Regions from separate parts of the Homo sapiens genome. Here regions 2 and 3 are each linked to region 1. Evidence: fine-mapped QTL for protein levels in blood plasma. A gene starts in region 1. Each other region holds a variant in brackets. All regions are shown on one strand. Distances are from middle to middle.

The links. PIP is the chance, under the fine-mapping model, that this variant and not a neighbour inherited with it causes the effect. Protein levels are from the aptamer-based SomaScan assay of Sun 2018.
Region 2: its variant is fine-mapped to the plasma level of the CRISPLD2 protein (Sun 2018, PIP 0.95).
Region 3: its variant is fine-mapped to the plasma level of the CRISPLD2 protein (Sun 2018, PIP 0.95). The variant lies in the coding sequence of CRISPLD2. If it changes the protein, the assay may bind it differently, which can mimic a change of level.

What each region holds. Positions count from the first base shown.
Region 1 is chr16:84,817,829-84,822,828 of GRCh38, forward strand. It overlaps CRISPLD2 (cysteine rich secretory protein LCCL domain containing 2), which reads left to right and starts at 2,157. Exons shown (of 15, transcript NM_031476.4): 1 at 2,157-2,305. RefSeq lists a silencer at 1,930-2,119.
Region 2 is chr16:84,799,145-84,808,044 of GRCh38, forward strand. LOC105371378 (a long non-coding RNA gene) reads left to right here. Exons shown (of 3, transcript XR_001752293.2): 3 at 868-1,118. Among named protein-coding and RNA genes, the nearest start is that of CRISPLD2, 16 kb to the right of the region's middle. RefSeq lists enhancers at 5,204-5,704, 6,872-7,450, 7,451-8,027 and a silencer at 7,412-7,611. The variant G/A (reference allele first, on the strand shown) is at 6,011.
Region 3 is chr16:84,866,716-84,871,715 of GRCh38, forward strand. It overlaps CRISPLD2 (cysteine rich secretory protein LCCL domain containing 2), which reads left to right. Exons shown (of 15, transcript NM_031476.4): 7 at 182-325; 8 at 2,136-2,196. Among named protein-coding and RNA genes, the nearest start is that of CRISPLD2, 49 kb to the left of the region's middle. The variant A/T (reference allele first, on the strand shown) is at 2,162.

The sequences.
Region 1 (5,000 bases):
GCCTGGAGGGTTGTTGGGGGTGGCAGGATTTGGCAGTATAATGCTTTGGGGTCAGGTACTCAGAGGCATCTGTTTTGTTGTTGTTTGTTTGTTTGGTTGGTTGGTTTTGTTTTGAAATAGGGTCTTGCTCTGTCACCCAGGCTGGGATGCAGTGGCTCGATTTCAGCTCACTGCAACCTCCACCTCCCAGGCTCAGGCAATCCTCCCACCTCAGCCTCCTGAGTGGCTGGAACCACAGGCATATGCCACCATGCTGGCTACTTTTTGTAGCAACTGGATTTCATCATGTTGCAGGCTGGTCCTGAACTCAAGCCACCTGCCTGGGCCTCCCAAAGTGCTGGGATTACAGGCCTGAGCCATCGTGCCAGGCCTCCAAAGGCATCTGCTAACACAGATCTCTTCTCCCCTTGGATTTGTCTTTTGTCAATCCAAGGACTGTTGTTCTGGAACAGTCTTATTCACTACTGAGCCCTCCAGTGCTTGAAACAGAGCCCAGCACATAGTAGGTGCTTAATTATTGGATGACTGCATGCCAGTTGAGTGCCTCTGAAGAATGATGCTTCAAAGACTGAGAAAAGTAAAACAAAAAGAGGAAAAAAAGATAACAGAAAACATCTGCATTATTATTATCTTTTTGAGATGGAGTTTTGTTCTTGTCTCCTAGGCTAGAGTGCAATGGCGCCATCTCAGCTCACTGCAACCTCTGCCTCTCAGGTTCGAGCGATTCTCCTGCCTCAGCCTCCCAAGTAGCTGGGACTACAGGCATGCACCACCATGCCCGGCTAATTTTTGTATTTTTAGTAGAGACAGTGTCACCATGTTGGCCGGGATGGTTTCGAACTCCTGATCTCAGGTGATCCGCCCGCCTCAAACTCCCACAGTGCTGGGATTACAGGTGTGAGCCACCGCGCCCGGCCAGTCTGCATTATTCTGTATCTGCATTTGAGCCGCACCAAAATCTTAGGCAAGCCTTCCCTGTTTGAGTCCACGTCACGCAGGCAGCCTTCCATAGTCCTTGTTCCACCCATTCCCCATCCTTGTTTCTCCCACGTGCCCTAGCTCGTGGGGGCCCCAGACTCTGAGATCCCGGAGGTGTCTTGTTTGTGCCTGCTGTATAGCACAGGGCCCGGCACAGAGCGACTCGATGGGTATTTGGGGAATGAGTTAATGCTGGAGGAGCTAATTCCGGTGTCTTGGTGCGGAGATGAGCAGTGCGGACAGGCCCCCTCCTGCCCTTGGGCCCCAGCACCTTACCGCGCAGTGCCTGCATACCCGTCCACATTTTGTGACTGAGGCGGGAGCACGGGGCAGTCCCTTAGCTCTTAAGGAACGTGGATTTACCTGTTTCAAAGGTGATTTCGTCTGGCTCTAAATTGATTTCCGTATGTACCTGCACAGGTTAAAAATGCTAAATGCCTCCGGGCAAAAGAGATATGAACATGCTGCACTGCTCCTAGCTACGGGACTTGGGGCACGCTCTTCTCCAAGCCTCAGCTACTGGATCTGTGAAATGAGGTGATTTCCACCTCCCTGGATTCCTGGGAACGCGTCCTAGGGTCGTTGAAGGTAAAGTGCGGAGCCTGGATCCCCGCGCTAGCGGCCCCATCCGGAAACAAGTCTCCCTTTCTTCGTCTGCAAATTGGGAAGAGGGGGCCTAAGTTTTCTGAGCACGTGTAGAGGGTGGGAGTCACCTCAGTAACTGTGTACTCTGCACCGCGCCACAGTTCACAGCGCCCAGCCCTTGCGGATTTCATTTGCTAAAATCCTGGGAGGTCGCCTCCTTATTCCTATTTTCCAGTTGAGCTGCAGAGAGCTGGGGTTTGGTAAATTTGCAAGCCCCTTGTGGGAAGCGCTTGGCACCGCGCCAGGCGCATAGTAAGCGCTCAATGAAAACTATGCTTGTGTGGCCAGTGGCGAGGGAGCTGAGCGTCTCCTTGTCCCTAGCCGGCCCTGGAGGCCAGCGGCCCCGCCTTCCTCGCCCACCCGGCGCCCGCGCCTCAGCTGCCCCCCGCCTCCTTCAGCCCGCTGAGCCTGCGGGGCGGGGCCGGGGGCGGGGCCGGTGATGCTCGGTCCTACCAGCGCCGCCAGCGATCTGGGGGCGTGGCCTCCGGGCTCCGGGGAGCCTACAAGAGGCGGTACGCTGAGCCCCGGCACCCACTCGCATCCCAGGGCGTCTCCGGCTGCTCCTATTGAGCTGTCTGCTCGCTGTGCCCGCTGTGCCTGCTGTGCCCGCGCTGTCGCCGCTGCTACCGCGTCTGCTGGACGCGGGAGACGCCAGCGAGCTGGTGATTGGAGCCCTGCGGAGGTAAGTGTGATTTCCATGCTTCTCCCTTTTGCAAACTGTTACCCCCCCGAGAAGCTGGAATAACTAGGACAGATGCCACCTCGCAGGGCTGACTGTGTGCTGGCACCACACCGAGTGCTCTGCTTGCATAGCGGAACACAGCTTTGCGACATGCCCTTTTGCAGATGGAGAAACTGAGGCTCAGCGAGGACAACTCATTTGTCCAGGACCTCGCAGCCAGGACTCCAAGGACCCAGGATTCAACGCCGATCTGAGCGCAGAATCCTGCTCCTTAGAGGCTGTTTACTCTCTTGCCTTCCTCGTGCAGTTCACTAGCATTTGTTGCATTCCTGTGTTCGTAGTGGGTGTCAATAACTGGAAAGCTGATGGCATGGATATGGCAGGCATTAGAATGTGTCCTACTCATGTCTGGAGGACCAGGGTGATCTAGTGGCATGTGCATTCAGCTGCAGTTTAGAGGGCCACGCCCCTCTGTGATTTCATTTGCAAGGTAGCCTTCTTCCCACATTTCAGATGAAGATGCTGAGGGTCAGAGAGGTGAAGTAAGTTGTCCGGGCAGAGCCAGGGCTGGAACCCAGCTCTGTCTGTCTCCAGAGCTTCAAATGGATGTGTAGAGACTTGGGGCCATGTCAGGGTTCTGCAGTCTGGGGGAACACGTTTCTGGGTTTCTTTAGCCAGAGCGGGCACCTGCATAACTCCTGCGTGGGGAGAGTTACCCTGGAAGCGGAGGGCTCACTCTGGAGTGTGGGGGAGATCGGTCGTCCCACGTGGACAGAGCCAGGGCTAGTCCCTCATGTGCTGCAGACCCAGAGCCTCCCTTGCTAAGGCTGGGCTGGTGGACAAGCCAGGGAGGACTTCGCTGATGCCTGCTCATCGCAGTCCAACTTGAATTGGGCGTCTCTCAGCCAAAATGTGAGTTGCTGCCCTGGCTGAGAGAAGCATCCCGTGCAAATGCCTAGCTTGCCTTGCAACCGAGAGTGGGGTTGTGAGTTTCCCCTTTGGGCCTTTGGACCTCTTGCCCTGGTAGAATGGGGTGAGCCTGCTTTCCCCATCCAGGGTCTGATGTCTGACAGTGAGGAGAGCCTGCAGAACAGGACCGGGGCGTGGTCCTTTCCAGTAGACTGAGGCCATGAGTTGTGACTGTCGGCTGTCCCAGGGCTCCTTGGGTTGTATGCACCTGATTTTCTGCTTCTGCCCCTGATCTGGCTGTTCCCACTCAGGAGAAGGGGTGGGTGTGTGACTGTGTTGCCTGTGCGGCAGGCACGCGGTCTGTGCCACGCAGTTTACCTGTATTGTCATCGCTGCAACACCCCGGGGAGTAGGCCTCTTGATGCCCACTTCACAGCTGAGGAAACTGAGGCTCAGCAAGGTGAAGTGCTTGCCTAAGATCCCCCAGCTGGTATGGAATGCTGTCACCCCCAGGTGGGTCCTATCTGCACTCTTGACCCTGCTTTCTTTAAGACACTTCCCTGCCCACTGCCAACTCCACCCATGAACCTGACCTTCACACAGGTGATGTTTTGTCTTACAGGGGCTCCAGTTAAAACCACTGGACAATGTACCCAGGGAGGAGAAACCAAGAGGGTGATTTTGATTTTTTCAGAGTTTCTTAAGATGTGAGAGTAGGAATAGTAATAATGCCATTTGTAATAATACAAGCAGCTGACATTTACATGATGCTTAGTACAGACCAGACATGCCCAGGGTTTCCACGGATGAGCTCACTGCCTGCTCTATTAGCTGGGCACTTTTTACAAGGAGTTAGTTGAGGCTCAGAATTATTAAGGTGTGTGCCCAACATGACACAGCCAGGGCGGGGTAGAGCTGCCGTCCAGGCTGGGCCCTGCCCCAGATTCTGGGGGAAGGTGCCCATCTAATGACCAGCCACATGACTGTCCCAGCAGAGCTTGCTGCTAGTTGAGGCTTTCTGTGCCATGTGGGAGTTTTTTTAACGTTGGCAGGGATCTGGGTCCCTGGTCCCTGTTGGGGTGAGGCTGGGAGGGGATCAACTGACCCTGGGCTTGGGCTCAACATTGCTGACAGGTACTGAGAGCCCCGTCCCAGGACCCAAATCAGTGCTGGTTCTGAGTCCTGCCTCTGTCCTGGAGAGGAGAGTTGGTTTGACTGGGAAGGCCTGAGCTAGGGAAGAAGACTGCGAGGTCTCTTAAAACCTCTGCACTTCATCCCTCAAAAGACCACAAATTAAGTATGTGGCCCTTTGTAAGTTGCATTTGAAAGTTTTTGGAGGCAGGACCCTCTGACGTCTTTGGAGGTCAGAAAGTTTTTGGAGGCAGGGCACTGACCTCTTTGGCCTGTGGGAACTGGAACTTTTCTTTCCTCTGTCACCAGCGTCATTTGCTGTGTGTGGGAGGTGTCTGCATGTCTGCCTGCGCCAGACTCAGGAGGCTTTTTCTTTCTTTTTCTTTTTTCTTCTTTTGCAAACGCACTGGTTTTTGATCAGTCCCAGATGTGCAAACCCAGGATCACTCAAACGGGCTGACGGCTTGTCAGGAAAGGAAAATTCAATCTGGGCATATTTCACTTCGTCTTCAGTTCATTGAGTGGAACAGATGCTCAGACCTTCCAGGGACAGGGACCTAAAGCACGTTGTAAAGTCTTAAATAGAGCACGCTGAGTTCTGGGACAGGCAAGGGACAGGTAGATCTGGGTGGTGGTTAATAGGATGGGCCATGTT
Region 2 (8,900 bases), 17 kb before region 1:
CTACTAAAAATACAAAAAATTAGCCAGGCGTGGTGGCGGGCGCCTGTAGTCACAGCTGCTTGGGAGGCTGAGGCAGGAGAATGGTGCGAACCCGGGAGGTGGAGCTTGCAGTGAGCCAAGATTGCACCACTGCACTCCAGCCTGGGCGACAGAGCAAGACTCCGTATCAAAAAAAAAAAAAAGCTGTATTATTTGGCATGTATACATTTAGGAATTTTCTATATCCTTGATGAGTTGGCCTTTTTGTAATTATGACAAACCCATCTTTATCCCTGGAAATATTCCTTTGTCTAATATTAATATCACCACTCCAGCTTTCATTTGGTGAGTATAAGCATGTTGCATGGTATACATTTTTCCATCTCTTTACTTTTAACCTATTTATGTCTTTGTAGTTAAAGTTGGTTTCTTGTAGACAGCATACCGTTGGGCCTTGCTTTTTCATACAATCTGACAACCTTACATTATGTTGGAATGTTTAGAACATTTACATTTAACATAAATCAATATAGTTGGGTTAAAACCTGCTATCATGCTATTTGATTTTCAATTTGTCTTATCTCTTCTTTGTTACTTTCTCCCCATTTTCTTGTCTTCTTTTAGATTAGTTGCATTGCCTGTCTGATTCCAATTTATCTATATTATTTGCTTGCAGATATGTAAAAAGTTGAAGTTTCATTAGGGATATACATAAAATAGATGATTTTTCTAAAATAATGAGGCCAATCATGAGATGACTCATTAAGGAAAAGATCAATTGAAAAATGCATGTTTGGAAAAAAATTGCATGTTTGGACTTACCTTCAGTTATCATTAGGAAACAGAATAAAACCTAGACCAGAAGTTAAGTATTTTTTTTTTCCTAAGCTCACAATTATAGTTTCTATGATTTGAATCATCAGAAGAGCAAACTTGATAATCCTGGAAATTTAGGAGACATGAGGTCATGGAAGGTCGTGGAAGGTCCTGAAGGTGAGTATTCTGTCAGGAACGGTGTGTTCGCCTTCCTTATGCTCCTGCTAAGCCCTCTCTCTAAAGTTGTGTATTCTGCTCGAAAACTTCCCTTGCCAGAGGATACTTTTCATGAATAAATGCTCTCCAGTTCTTGTCATTGCTAAGTACAGTTCTTGGGTTACTTTGCATGTCTCTCCAATATCAATTTGATGGAGTGTCTTCGAGGAACTGGCAACGTGCCAAACACTATATGCAGGGATTTGCCTACATTCAATCATTTAATCCTCCCAACAACACTGTGAGACTGACAAGATTCTTAGCTCCCCTCCATGGCTGATGAAGTGGCATCTCAGTGAACTGAAGGAAGTTGCTGGAATTCCAACCTGTGCTGTCCAATTACCAGGCCTATGATCTTGGCCCCTAAGCTATCTTTGGGAGGGCCTGCCAGTGCTTGGATTTCCTGTTTCTGTCTCTTTCCCTGCTGGCTGAAGTTAACAATCAGTATTTCACAGGGCCCTCTGAAATTTCCTTCCCCTTCAAATATCAGCCTTATGCTGGTACTGGGGATACCCAGGGAGTGAGACGTGGTCTCCAGCTTATAGATGCTCGAAGTAAAAGAGGAGATGGAACAATTGTCACAGTTACCTATTGCCACGGTGATGCTGAGTAACAAACCACCTGTAACTCTGTGGCTTTATTCTTGCTCTCTGTCTGCAAATCATCTGGGAAAATGGGGTGGGGTGGGGTCACCTGATCTATGCTGGGCTCAAGCTACAGGATGGATCCAATTCTACTGGACACTTTGTTCTGTGACCCGTGGATTGCCTGGGGCATTTTCTCCTTGTGGCCATGGCGGAAGCCCATCAATCAAAGCAAGTCACATGGCTAAGCTCAAAGTCAAGAGGTGGAAAGTACTCTTTGCCCACCACGAGGCCATGGTAGACCCCAAGGCCATTGGGCTGTAGAACAGACAGCAGAGTGGAGAACCAGAACCGATAATTCAATTCACCTCATTTATTTTAACAGGTGAGCAAAGCAATTTGCATGACAGCAAGATGTTGCTAAGGAAGACAAAAGATAGAAGCAACTGCCTACCTTGCCAACCACATGCCTTCACAGAGGAGGTGATGTCGGTGCTGGGTCTTGAAAGGTGGGGTTTCCCAGGTGGAGAGAGAGCATGTGCAAAGGTCCAGTGGCACAAAAGGCCCCTGTGGGCTCAGAGAGAAGGAAAAAGCTTAGTGCTACTGATGTGTAGAGGGGTGCATGTGCTTGCAGGTGGGTGGGGAGGGTATGGGGCAGGGAGCTGGGTGCAGTAGAGAGAGATGAACCCAGAAAGTTGCCAGTAATGAAGATAACTAAGGTCATTAATGGGCAGGGAAGTGTCTGGTCAGGCTTGGGTTTTCAGGTAATGATTCTGGCTGCAAAGTGGAGACCAGAGAAGAGGAACAATTAAAATAATTAACATGTGTAGGTTTTTCTTTAAAAAAAAAAAAAAAGAAAGAAACAGCCAGGCATTTTACATGCCTAATTTGAACCTCACAGCAACCGAGTGAAATAGGCATTATTGGCTGGGCGCGGTGGTTCACGCCTGTAATCCCAGCACTTTGGGAGGCCGAGGTGGGCAGATCACTAGGTCAGGAGATCGAGACCATCCTGGCTAACATGGTAAAACCCCGTCTCTACTAAAAAAATACAAAAAATTAGCCGGGCGTGGTGACGGGCGCCTGTAGTCCCAGCTACTTGGGAGGCTGAGGCAGGAGAATAGCATGAACCCGGGAGGTGGAGCTTGCAGTGAGCCGAGATCGAGCCACTGCACTCCAGCCTGGGCGACAGAGCGAGACTCCCTCTCAAAAAAAAAAGAAATAGGCATTATTAATTTTAATTTTAGCATAAAAAGAAATATATTTGCATTCATTTAAAAATCTTTCCTCATTGGCCAGGCTTGACCAGCTGGGAGCTCACTGTGCTCACCCTCAGGGAATGCTAACTTTTTTCTTTTTTTTTGAGACAGAGTCTCATTCTGTCACCCAGGCTGGAGTGCAGTGGTGCGATCTCAGCTCACTGCAACCTCTGCCTTCGGGGCTCAAGCAATTCTTCTGCCTCAGCCTCCCCAGTAGCTGGGATTACAGGCATGCGCCACCACGCCTGGCTAATTTTTGTATTTTTAGTAGAGACGGAGTTTCACCATGTTGGCCAGGCTGGTCTCGAACTCCTGACCTCAGATGATCTGCCTGCCTCGGACTCCCAAAGTGCTGGGATTATAGGTGTGAGCCACCGCACCCAGCCAGAACTTTTAGTGTTGTTGTTTGCTCCTGAAGCACGGAGGTTGATGTTCTCAGCCCCATTCCCCAGATGAGGAAAGCTGAGCCCTGGAGAGCCTGAGGAACATGCCCAGCGTCTCAAGTGAGGAAATGGTGGGCTAGGATCCAAACCCAGGAGGTGGGCAGCTGGCCACTGGGCCACAGCGCCTCCCCATAGGGTGAGTCCAGAGCCCCCAACCAAAATGGCGGATGGGCTGCAGGAGAAAGGAGGGACTGATGTGGCTTCTACCTGCGTCAAGTGGACCAGGTGTGGGACGAGTTTCAGGGGAGCAGGAAGGGAAGAGAGGAGTCAAGAATCCTCGACTGGCTGGGCGTGGTGGCTCGTGCCTGTAATTCCAGCACTTTGGGAGGCCGAGGTGGGTGGTTCACGAGGTCAGGAGTTCGAGACCAGCCTGACCAACATGGTGAAACCCCATCTCTACTAAAAATACAAAAATGAGCCGGGCGTGGTGGCACTTGCCTGTAGTCCCAGCTACTCAGGAGGCTGGGGCAGGAGAATCGCTTGAATCTGGGAGGCGGAAGTTGCAGTGAGCTGAGATCACGCCACTGCACTCCAGCCTGGGTAACAGGGCGAGACCCTATCTCAAAAAAAAAAAAAAAAAAAAGGAGTCCTCGACCATGCCGTATGCTTCCAGTTACAGAATATTCTTGAACAGGCAAGCAAGTCTACAGCAAAGCAACAGAAAGCAGATCCATGGTTGCTGGGGGAGGTGGGACGCAGATGGGCGTGATGGGAACATTCTGTATCATGGTGGTAGTTGGGCGGGTATAGACATCTGTTCCTCATCCAGCTGTCCACTTAAATGGGTACACGTGCTTGTGTATAAACCCCACCCCCTGTAAGGTTGATGTTAAAAGTGCTTCTGAGGCCTCCTATTGGTGACATTGCCCAGGTCGGTGGACGTCAGGGGATCCTATTTCTTAGAACACAGGGATGTCTTTCCGTCATTTGAATTTCTGGCTAGCCGACCTTTTTCCTCCTCAGCTGGAGCCCCTACCTGCCTCGGGGGACTAGGAAAGCTTAGCAGAACCTCAGCAGGAAAGCAACTTGTTTAGCTTTTAGAGTTCTCAGTGAGACCAGAGCCCTGGGAAGGAATGAAGAGGGGAACGGGGTTGCCCACATCCTTTGCACCCCTTTTGCATCAAGAGTCAGGCCCGTGGTCCTTGGCAAACTCACGCAGGAACCGAAAACCAAATACCGCACGTTCTCACTGATAAGTGGGAGTTAAACGATGAGAAGACATGGACGCATAGAAGGGAACACCACCCACTGGGGCCTGTCGGAGGGTGGAGGGTGGGAGCGGGGAGGGGATCAGGAAGAAGAACTCATGGATACTGGGCTTAATACCTGAGTGACGAAATAGTCTGTACAACAAACCCTCGTGACACACGTTTACCTAAGTAACAAACCTGCACATCCTGCACATGTACCCTGGAAATTAAAAGTTTTTTTTAAAAAAACGATTGTTTTACAAAGTCAGTGAAAAAAGGGCCAGGCGCGGTGGCTCACGCCTGTAATCCCAGCACTTTGGGAGGCCGAAGCAGGCGGATCATGAGGTCAGTAGATCGAGACCATCCTGGCTAACACGGTGAAACCCTGTCTCTACTAAAAATACAAAAAAATTAGCCGGGCATGGTGGCGGGCGCCTGTAGTCCCAGCTACTCCGGAGGCTGAGGCAGGAGAATGGCGTGGACCCAGGAGGCGGAGCTTGCAGTGAGCCAAGATTGCACCACTGCACTCCAGCCTGGGTGACAGAGCGAGACTCCGTCTCAAAACAAAAACAAAAAGAAAAACAAAAACAAAAAAACAACAAAGTCAGTGAGAAATTTAAAAGAAAAAAAAAGGTCAGGCCTATTGAACTTCAAACTTATTATCAGCCAGAGGGGATGGAAAACCCAGTGCCTCATGGAAGGAACACCCCAAACATAAGAAGGTGGAAAATCCTCCCTCCCAGCTCCAGCAAGGTGAGCGGACAGGTGAAAAAGAGCTTCTGCCCCTGGTCGGGACCCTGGAGTCAAGGGAGGAGGCAGATTAAGGAGGAGGCTGAGAGCGAACGTGTTACGAGGCAGCTCCCTCCAGTGCAAGGTGGAGGACAGCCCTCGTGCACAGTGGAGCAGCCCCAGCCTGGGTGACTCCCCAAGCCCTGTAGGCCGATGTGGCCCGGTATGTCCAAGCTTGCTGGAGTGGGTTAACTGGTGGCCCCCAGAATGATATATCCAAGCCCTGATGCCCAGAACCCGTGAATGTGACCTTATTTGGAAAAAGAATCTGGCTGGGCACGGTGGTTCATGCCTGTAATCCCAGCACTTTGAGAGGCCGACACAGGTGAATCATCTGAGGTCAGGAGTTCGAGATCAGCCTGGCCAACATGGTGAAACCCCACCTCTACTAAAAATACAAAAGTTAGCCGGACTTGGTGGTGCACATTTGTAATCCCAGCTACTCGGGAGGCTGAGGCACGAGAATCGCTTGAACCCAGGAGGCGGAGGTTGCAGTGACCCGAGATCACACCACCGCACTCCAACCTGGGTGATGGAGCGAGACCACATCTAAAATAAATAAATAAATAAATAAATAGGCTGGCTGCGATGGCTCACGCCTGTAATCCCAGCCCTTTGGGAGGCCGAAGTGAGTGGACCACAAGGTCAAGAGATTGAGATCATCCTGGCCAACATGGTGAAACCCCGCCTCTACTAAAAATACAAAAATTAGCTGGGCGTGGTGGCGCACGCCC[G/A]TAGTCCCAGCTATTCGGGAGGCTGAGGCAGGAGAATCACTTGAACCTGGGAGGCGGAGGTTGCAGTGAGCCGAGATCAGGCCACCGCACTCCAGCCTGGGCAACAGAGTGAGACTCTGTCTCAAAAAAAAAAAAAAAAAAAGAAAGAAAAAGTATCTTTGCTGTAATCAATAGAAGGTCTTGAGATGAGGCCATCCTGGATGACCATGTGTGCCCTAAGTGCAACCATGAATGTCCGTATAAGAAGAGAAGAAGGCTACGCGAGGACAGAGGCAGCGATGGGAGTGATGCGGCCACAAGCCAAGGAACACCTGGGGCCCCTGGAAGCTGGAAGAGGCAGGAAGGATCTTCCCTCTCTCCACTCTGCAGACGCTTTGATTTCAGACCGCTGGCCTCCGGAACCGGGAGAGAACACATCTCTATTGCTAGCCACCCAGTTTGCAGCAGTTTATTAGGACATCCCCGGGAAATTAATCACGGCTCCTGTCATGTAAAAAGATCGGTGGGTGGGCTCCGTCTTTGCCTCTCTGCAAAACCGTGAAGTCCCTAAACTTCCTTCCCACTCATCTAGGGGGAGAGGAGAGGAAGGAGGGAAAGAGCGAGGGCCCTGAGTGGCTCTGAGTGCACATGGGTGGGCTAGTTGCTGCAGAGACCACTGCAAATTAACAGAGATGATATAGAGAGACTGAGGCTGAGCATGGTGGCTCACACCTGTAAGCAGCACTTTGGGAGGCAGAGGCAGGCGGATCACTTGAGGTCAGGAGTTTGAAACCAGCCTGGCCAACACGGTGAAACCCCATCTCTACTAAAAATACAAAAATTAGCCAGGCATGGTGGTACAAGCCTGTAATCCCAGTACTTCGGGAGTCTGAGGCAGGCAGATCGCTTGACATCAGGGGTTTGAAACCAGTCTGGCCAACATGATAAAACCCCGTCTCTACTAAAAATACAAAAATTAGCCGGGCATGGTGGCACATGCCTGTAATCCCAAATACTGGGGAGGCTGAGGCAGGAGAATCACTTGAGCCCCGAAGGCGGAGGTTGCAGTGAGCTGAGATTGCACCACTGCACTCCAGTCTGGGTGACAGAGTGAGGCTCCGACTCAGAAAAAAAAAAAAAGAAACCAAGAGATGTCCTGTTGTCAAGGTTAAGTACTACCCCACCCCTCAACTGCCCTGTTAGGGAAAATAAGGCAGTTGCATTTTCAGACACGCAAGTGGGACCCGCCGAGATTAAAAATGCAAGAAGCAGCGGTTCACAGGATGCCGAGGATGACTGGACTTCCTGTCCACCCCCTGGGCCTGGCCAGAGCTTCTGCAGGCACTTCAGGCTCCCCTGATGGTGGCGGTGATGCCGTGGGTGCTCGGGGACAGTGGGAATGCAGTGACACCACTCGGGCTAGAGAACCCCCCGGAGGCTCTTGCATTGGTCGTCCTGGGCCATGCACAGCCTGGAACTGGCCGCTATCCAATTTTGCATCTGGGAAGTGTTCATCGATTGCTAGAAAAATAATCAGGTCGAACGCAGGCCATTTCCGGTAAAGAGGCTCTAGGGAAGCACCTTCAGGCCAGATGACTCAGGACTGTGCGGAGTGTGTGTGGTCTGGGAGCCGGCTGCCTGCCGGGCCCGGGTGCTCTGCAGGGAAACAGTTGGCTGCCTGAGGGCTCATTCATGGCTGTTTCCCCTGGAAGGGCGGCGCAGGAGCCCGGTTCTGCAGCCCTGCCGACGCCGTGTCACAGACACAGCTCTTCATGGATGCATCTGGTTTCCCATGGCTGCGGTAACAAGTGACCACAAGGTTGGCGGCTGGAAACAGCTTAAGTATCCCATCTTACGGTTCTGGAGGTCAGAAGTCTGAGATCGGCATCACTGGGCTAAAGTCAAGGTGTGGGCGGGGCTGGTTGCTCCTGGAACCTCCAGGGGAGAATCGTCTCCTTGACTTTTCCAGCTTCTAGAGGCTGCCTGTACTCCTGGGCTCATGGCCCCTTCGTCCATCCTCAGAGTGCATCACTCCAACCTCGGCTTCCATCATCACAGCACCTTCTCTTCTGACGCTGACCCTCTGGCCTCCCTCTTACAAGGGAGGCTTGTGATTCCGTGGGGGCCACAGGAGAATTCAGGCCGCTCTTCCCATGTCACCACCCTTAGCAGAATCACGTCTGCAGAGGCCCCGTTACAATGAATGCTGGGTCCAATCGCGTTTCCCAAAAATCCATGTCCACCTGGGACCTCAGAATGGGACCTTATATGGAACTAGGGTCTCTGCAGATGTAATCACATTAAGATGATGTCACACTCAACTAGGATGGGCCCTAATCTAGTGCCTGATGTCTTCATAAGAAGAGGAAAGTTTGGACACAGATGCACCGGGAAGGTGGCCATGTGAAGAGGAAGTCGGAGATTGGAATGGCCACAGACGGGACATCAGGCATTGCCGGCCACCAGAAGCTGAGACATGTGCAGATGGATCCTCCCTAGGCCCTTCGGGAAGAGCATGGCCCCTTCGACACCTTGATCTTGGACTCCTGGCCTCCAGGACTGTGGGAAAATGCGTTTGCGTTGTTTGAAGCCCCCTGTTTCTGGTACTTAGTTACAGCCGCCCTAGGAGCAAATGCATCGTGTAAGGGCACATTTGCAAGCTCCAGGAGTCAGGAACAGGCCTAGACGGGGTGCCATTATTCAGCCCTCCACAGACCCTTAGCAGGGCGGAGAAATGGGCCAAGCCCCCTGTCAAGGAAGAGCTGGAGAGTGGAGAGGGCACCTGGAAGGGTGTCAGAGTGGCGTGGCTCTGCAGAACGGGGCCTGTCACAGGGCAGGTGCTCAAGCCCATGTGGATAAGGTGCGTAAGTTGAGACTGTCACATGTGAAGGTGGCCTCTGCTGCCAGGCGG
Region 3 (5,000 bases), 49 kb after region 1:
CTGGTAGAATTCCACCTGGCCAGGTCTGTTCTGAAATGTAACTTTCTCTTTGCCGCTGAAATGATTCTTTGTAAAACCAAACCTCAAACACGTTTAGTTTTCAAATTGCTTTTTTTTCCCCAAAGTGCGTTTTTGTTGAATCCCAGTGTGTTATTTTTTTTCCTCCCTCTCCAATGTTAAGAAGAAACCTACACTCCAAAACCTGAAACGGACGAGATGAATGAGGTGGAAACGGCTCCCATTCCTGAAGAAAACCATGTTTGGCTCCAACCGAGGGTGATGAGACCCACCAAGCCCAAGAAAACCTCTGCGGTCAACTACATGAGTGAGTCTAGGCCGTCCTCCGCCCCTCCTGCCCTCCCAGCCACCTCCAAAGGGGACGGGGTGGGTGGAGGAGGGGAGCTAGTGGATTTAGGTCTGCAAATCCACAGGCAGTGGCAAACAGGGTGCGGCGAAGCTCATGGAGGCACAACCATAAGACGTTTTTCAAAAACGATATTTTTAAGTCATTTCAAAAGCGAGCATTATAGGACTTGTGCTTGGGTGGCATTTTCCCCACACCCAGGCAGGTATTTTAAGGTTAGACCTTCCCTTGTCCTTTCAAAAGGGACCTGGGCTGAAGTTGGGTTCCTCTGGGAAGCGCTGGCCCTGCAGAGGGCAGGCAGCGTCCAGCCTGGCTCTGGAAGGTTCCACTCCTTTCTCACCAGGTCCTGGGTCTGGACTCAGTTGGCGCATCCATGAAGTAGGGGATAGAGATGCCACATCAAGGTTGCCCGGAGGATGAGCTGCAGCAACACGGGTCACCCAGTGCCAGCTGAGGTCTCCCTGTACATTGAGATCATTGCAGAGTTGCCTACAACTCTTTTTTGAGATGGAGTTTCGCTCTTGTCACCCAGGTTGGAGTCCAGTGGCATGATCTCGGCTCACTGCAACCTTTGCCTTCCGGGTTCAAGCAATTCTCCTGCCTCAGCCCCCTGAGTAGCTGGGACTACAGGTGCCCACCACTATGCCCAGCTAATTTTTGTATTTTTAGTAGAGAAAGGGAGATGTTTCCCCCTGGGACTTCCAGGAATCCCCAAAATATTGACTCTTCCCCTGCTCACCTTTGGCCTTTTGGCTCCCTGGGCACCTCAGCTCCCCAAGCTTTTGTTCTGTCTGCCTTCACCGCCCCAGGGTGGAGTTCAGCTCCCCTTCAGCTCCCCCCAGCCACTGCTGCGGGAACTCATTTGCAGCCGCCGTTTCTGCAGGCCGGGGGCTGTGGAGGGGCGTTTTTGCTCAGGCGGGGCTGGAGGGCTGGGCTGGATGCCCTTGGCTCTCCCCGTTTGCCCCGCAAGCCTCAAAGGCCCTAAAACTGGACCCCTCTTTGAGGAACAGCCTCACACCCGCCTTCTCAGAGCCCCTCTCTTCTTTTCATAACTACCATCTCCCCTGCCCCCACCAGTCTTTCTGTCCTCTTCAAACCTCTTTCCCTGTGATGCCGAAGCATTCTGTAGCTTGCTTTGACCAGGAAACCTGCGGAGGCCCTTGTCTGTCCAGGAGTTCAAAACGGTGCCATTGTTTCTTTTAATAACATACAACGTTTATGTCCCTTTTCAAACTATAACACGACTCCGAGACTCTGATATGTTCCCATAAAATAAACAAAGCAAAAAGCTTTGCAAAAGGCATCTTGGCGATGGGGGAGATGACTCGGGTGAGCCTGGCTGGGTCTCCGGCCCCACAGGCTCGGAGCAGCATCCTCCCTACCCTCTCAGGAGTCCTGCCCTGCAGAGCCCTGTGGGACCACAGGCACATCGTGTGTGCCAGGCACCCTGCCAAGGCCAGAGTTCACTTTCTCTCTCAAGGTTCACAAAAGCCCTTGGAGGTGGGTACTGTCACTGTCCGCATTGTCCATATGCGGAAATTGAACCTCAGAGAGGGGAAGCAAATTGTTCAAGGTCACACTGCTACTGTAAAGCGGTGGGCCTGGGGTCTGAGCCCCCAGCGGAAGCCTGCAACCATCAGGCATTGCCCTTGCTCTTAGTATAGCACGGATTGGATTGCAGAATGTTCCAGAATGTCCCTCAGCATGGGGAAGGGTCTTCTCACCCTCCTGGTTTCGTGCCGTGACATGTATTCCCGCATTTCTCTCCTAGCCCAAGTCGTCAGATGTGACACCAAG[A/T]TGAAGGACAGGTGCAAAGGGTCCACGTGTAACAGGTGAGCCTGTGCTGGGCTGTCCTGCCACTGTAGCCTCTGAGTCTGTGCTGGGCTGTCCTACCACTGTGGCCTCTGGGCCTATGCTGGGCTGTCCTGCTGTTGCATATTTAGCAAGCTGCTCTCAGCAGGCAGAACAGGGGTTAGGGCTGGGCAGTGTCTGGGCATGTGTTCGCCTCGGCCGTTGGCAGATCCTATGGGAATGCTGCAGGATCTGAGCAGGCTGCTCCCAGTGGGCCCCACCAGACAGATGGGCCACCGGTATATTCCCCCCATGGTAGATGAATAAATCCATCTAGTTGTTGCAGTCATTCAGATGATGAACGCTGTCTGCCAAAAAGAACGCATTTGGTTTTGGCAGTGTGACTGCTGGGCTGTTCTTTGTGGTAGTAAACAGCCAACAGGTGCAGCCGCCGCACGCACACCCTCAGAGTCAAATGGGAAAACCATGTCATTGGGAGAGGGGACCTTGCTCGTCTTCCTACGAATTCTGGCATCAGTTTGCCGAAAGCTGAATCGAGTTATTTAAAGCACATGTTAAAAAGGGAAGGTTGAATCTTCGGTTTTATATCGCAAGGGTTTGGAATTCAGTTTGCCAGGAGAACACTTCACTTAGACGTTGGCAGGACTGTGATGAGATGGACTTGGAGCAGCCGGGATGAGGCGGCTCAGTGGGCTCACATGTGGTACTGTCGTTTGTTGGTGAGATGAGCCTCATGTGTCAACAGTCAGCAGTGGAATAACAGTGCCTAAAACCTCGCGCTCAGTGTTAGGGTAGCATTTGCATGTCTCTGTGCTGGGCGAATTGGGAAAAAGCAGGCAGCGCCTGGCAGGGGCCTCCGCCGTGTGCACTGCCCCGTCTGGGCTGCTGAGAAGCCGGAGTTGTCCTTTTGTGGCAACGCATCTTTCTGAATGCTAAGCACATTGCGATAGCATCACCCCTGAGTAGTACTCAGTGGAAAAAGGTGAGCACGTATTGGAGAACATTCCTTGTCAGACAACATCGAGGCAGTTCCAGAGTTGGGGTGGGTGGGGCACTCCCCATGCAGGGAGAAGGCAAGAATCTGTCCACACAAAGGCTCTTAAAGGCCTCCAGTCAAGAAAAGTTACTCAGCCCCAGTGTGCCACTGTGGGAGCATCCTCATTCTCTCTGTAGAAGCCGGCCCACAGTCTGGCACACCTGTTTTCTGTTCATGGTGCTTTTACAAAAATAGTAGTCAGTGGGTTTTTTTTCTGACTTGAAAAGGCATCTATGCTCATTAATAATTATTCAGGAAAGCAATAACAACAACAAAAAAGTAGAAAGAAAAAAATGTGTTCCAAAATCTCATCAATACCAGCAGCAATTTGATGTATTTCCTTCCAGTCTTTTTTTCTGTGTACAGATGAGGCTAATGCTGCCCATGTATTTTGTTTTTTTTTTTTCTTTGAGTTGGAGTCTTGCTCTGTCACCCAGGCTGAAGTGCAGCAGCATGATCTCGGCTCACTGCCACCTCTGCTTCCCGGGTTTAAGTGATTCTCCCACCTCAGCCTCCCGCGTAGCTGGAACTACAGGCACACGCCACCATGCCCGGCTCATATTTTGTATTTTTGGTAGAGATGGGGTTTCACCAGGCCAGGCTGGTCTCAAACTCCTGACCTCAAGTGATCTGCCCGCCTTGGCCTCCCAAAGTGTTGGGATTACAGGCGTGAGCCACTGCGCCTAGGCTGCTTATGTATTTTCACTTAGTATTTTCCAAATATTCTTCACGCACTTCATGCTTAGTGACTGCCTGATACTCTGACACACGACTGTACATGAATGTGTTTAGCCATTGCTTTGCCACCTGCTGGCTTATTTCCAGCTTTTCACCATTATAAACAGTTGCGGCCAGGTACGGTGGCTCAAGCCTGTAATCCCAGCACTTTGGGAGGCCGAGGCGGGTGGATCACTTAAGGCCAAGAGTTTGAGACCAGCCTGGGCAACTGGCGAAACCCTGTCTCTACTAGAAATACAAAAATTAGCTGGACATGGTGGCATATGCCTATAGTCCCAGCTACTCGGGAGGCTGAGGCACAAGAATCGCTTGAACCTGGGAGGTGGAGGCTGCAATGAGCCGAGGTGTACTGGTGCACTCTGGCCTGGGTGACAGAATGAGACTCTGTCTCAAAAATTAAAAAATGATAAATAAATAGTTGGGATATGCTTGCAGGTCTGGCTTTCTTGACTTTTTGCTTGGAATATATATTTACAAGGGAAGCTGAAGAGCTAATGGATATGAATGTTTAAGTCTTTCTTAAAGATTTTCTTAAACATTAGAGTGATTTACACTTCCATGAACAGCAACACCATCATTGAGTTTTACCCTATTAAAAAATCCTTGCAGGCCAGGCATGGTGGCTTGTGCCTGTAACCTCAGCACCTTGGGAGGTCAAGGTGGGTGGATTGCTTGAGCCCAGGAGTTCGAAACCAGCCTGGGCAACATGGCAAAACCCCCAAAATTAGTTGGGTGTGGTTGTGCACACCTGTAGTCCCAGCTACTTGGGAGACTGAGGTGGGAGGATCACCTGAGCCCAGGAAGTTGAGGCTACAGTGAGCTGTGATTGCGCTGCTGCACTCCAGCCTGCGTGATGGAGTCAGACTCTTTCTTGGGGTTTTGTTTGTTTGTTTGTTGGTTTGTTGAGACTGAGTCTTGCTCTGTTGCCCAGGCTGGAGTGCAGTGGCACGATCTTTGCTCACTGTAACCTCTGCCTCCAGGGTTCAAGTGACTTTCCTGCCTCAGCCTCCCAAGTAGCTGGGACTACAGGTGCCTGCCACCACACGCGGC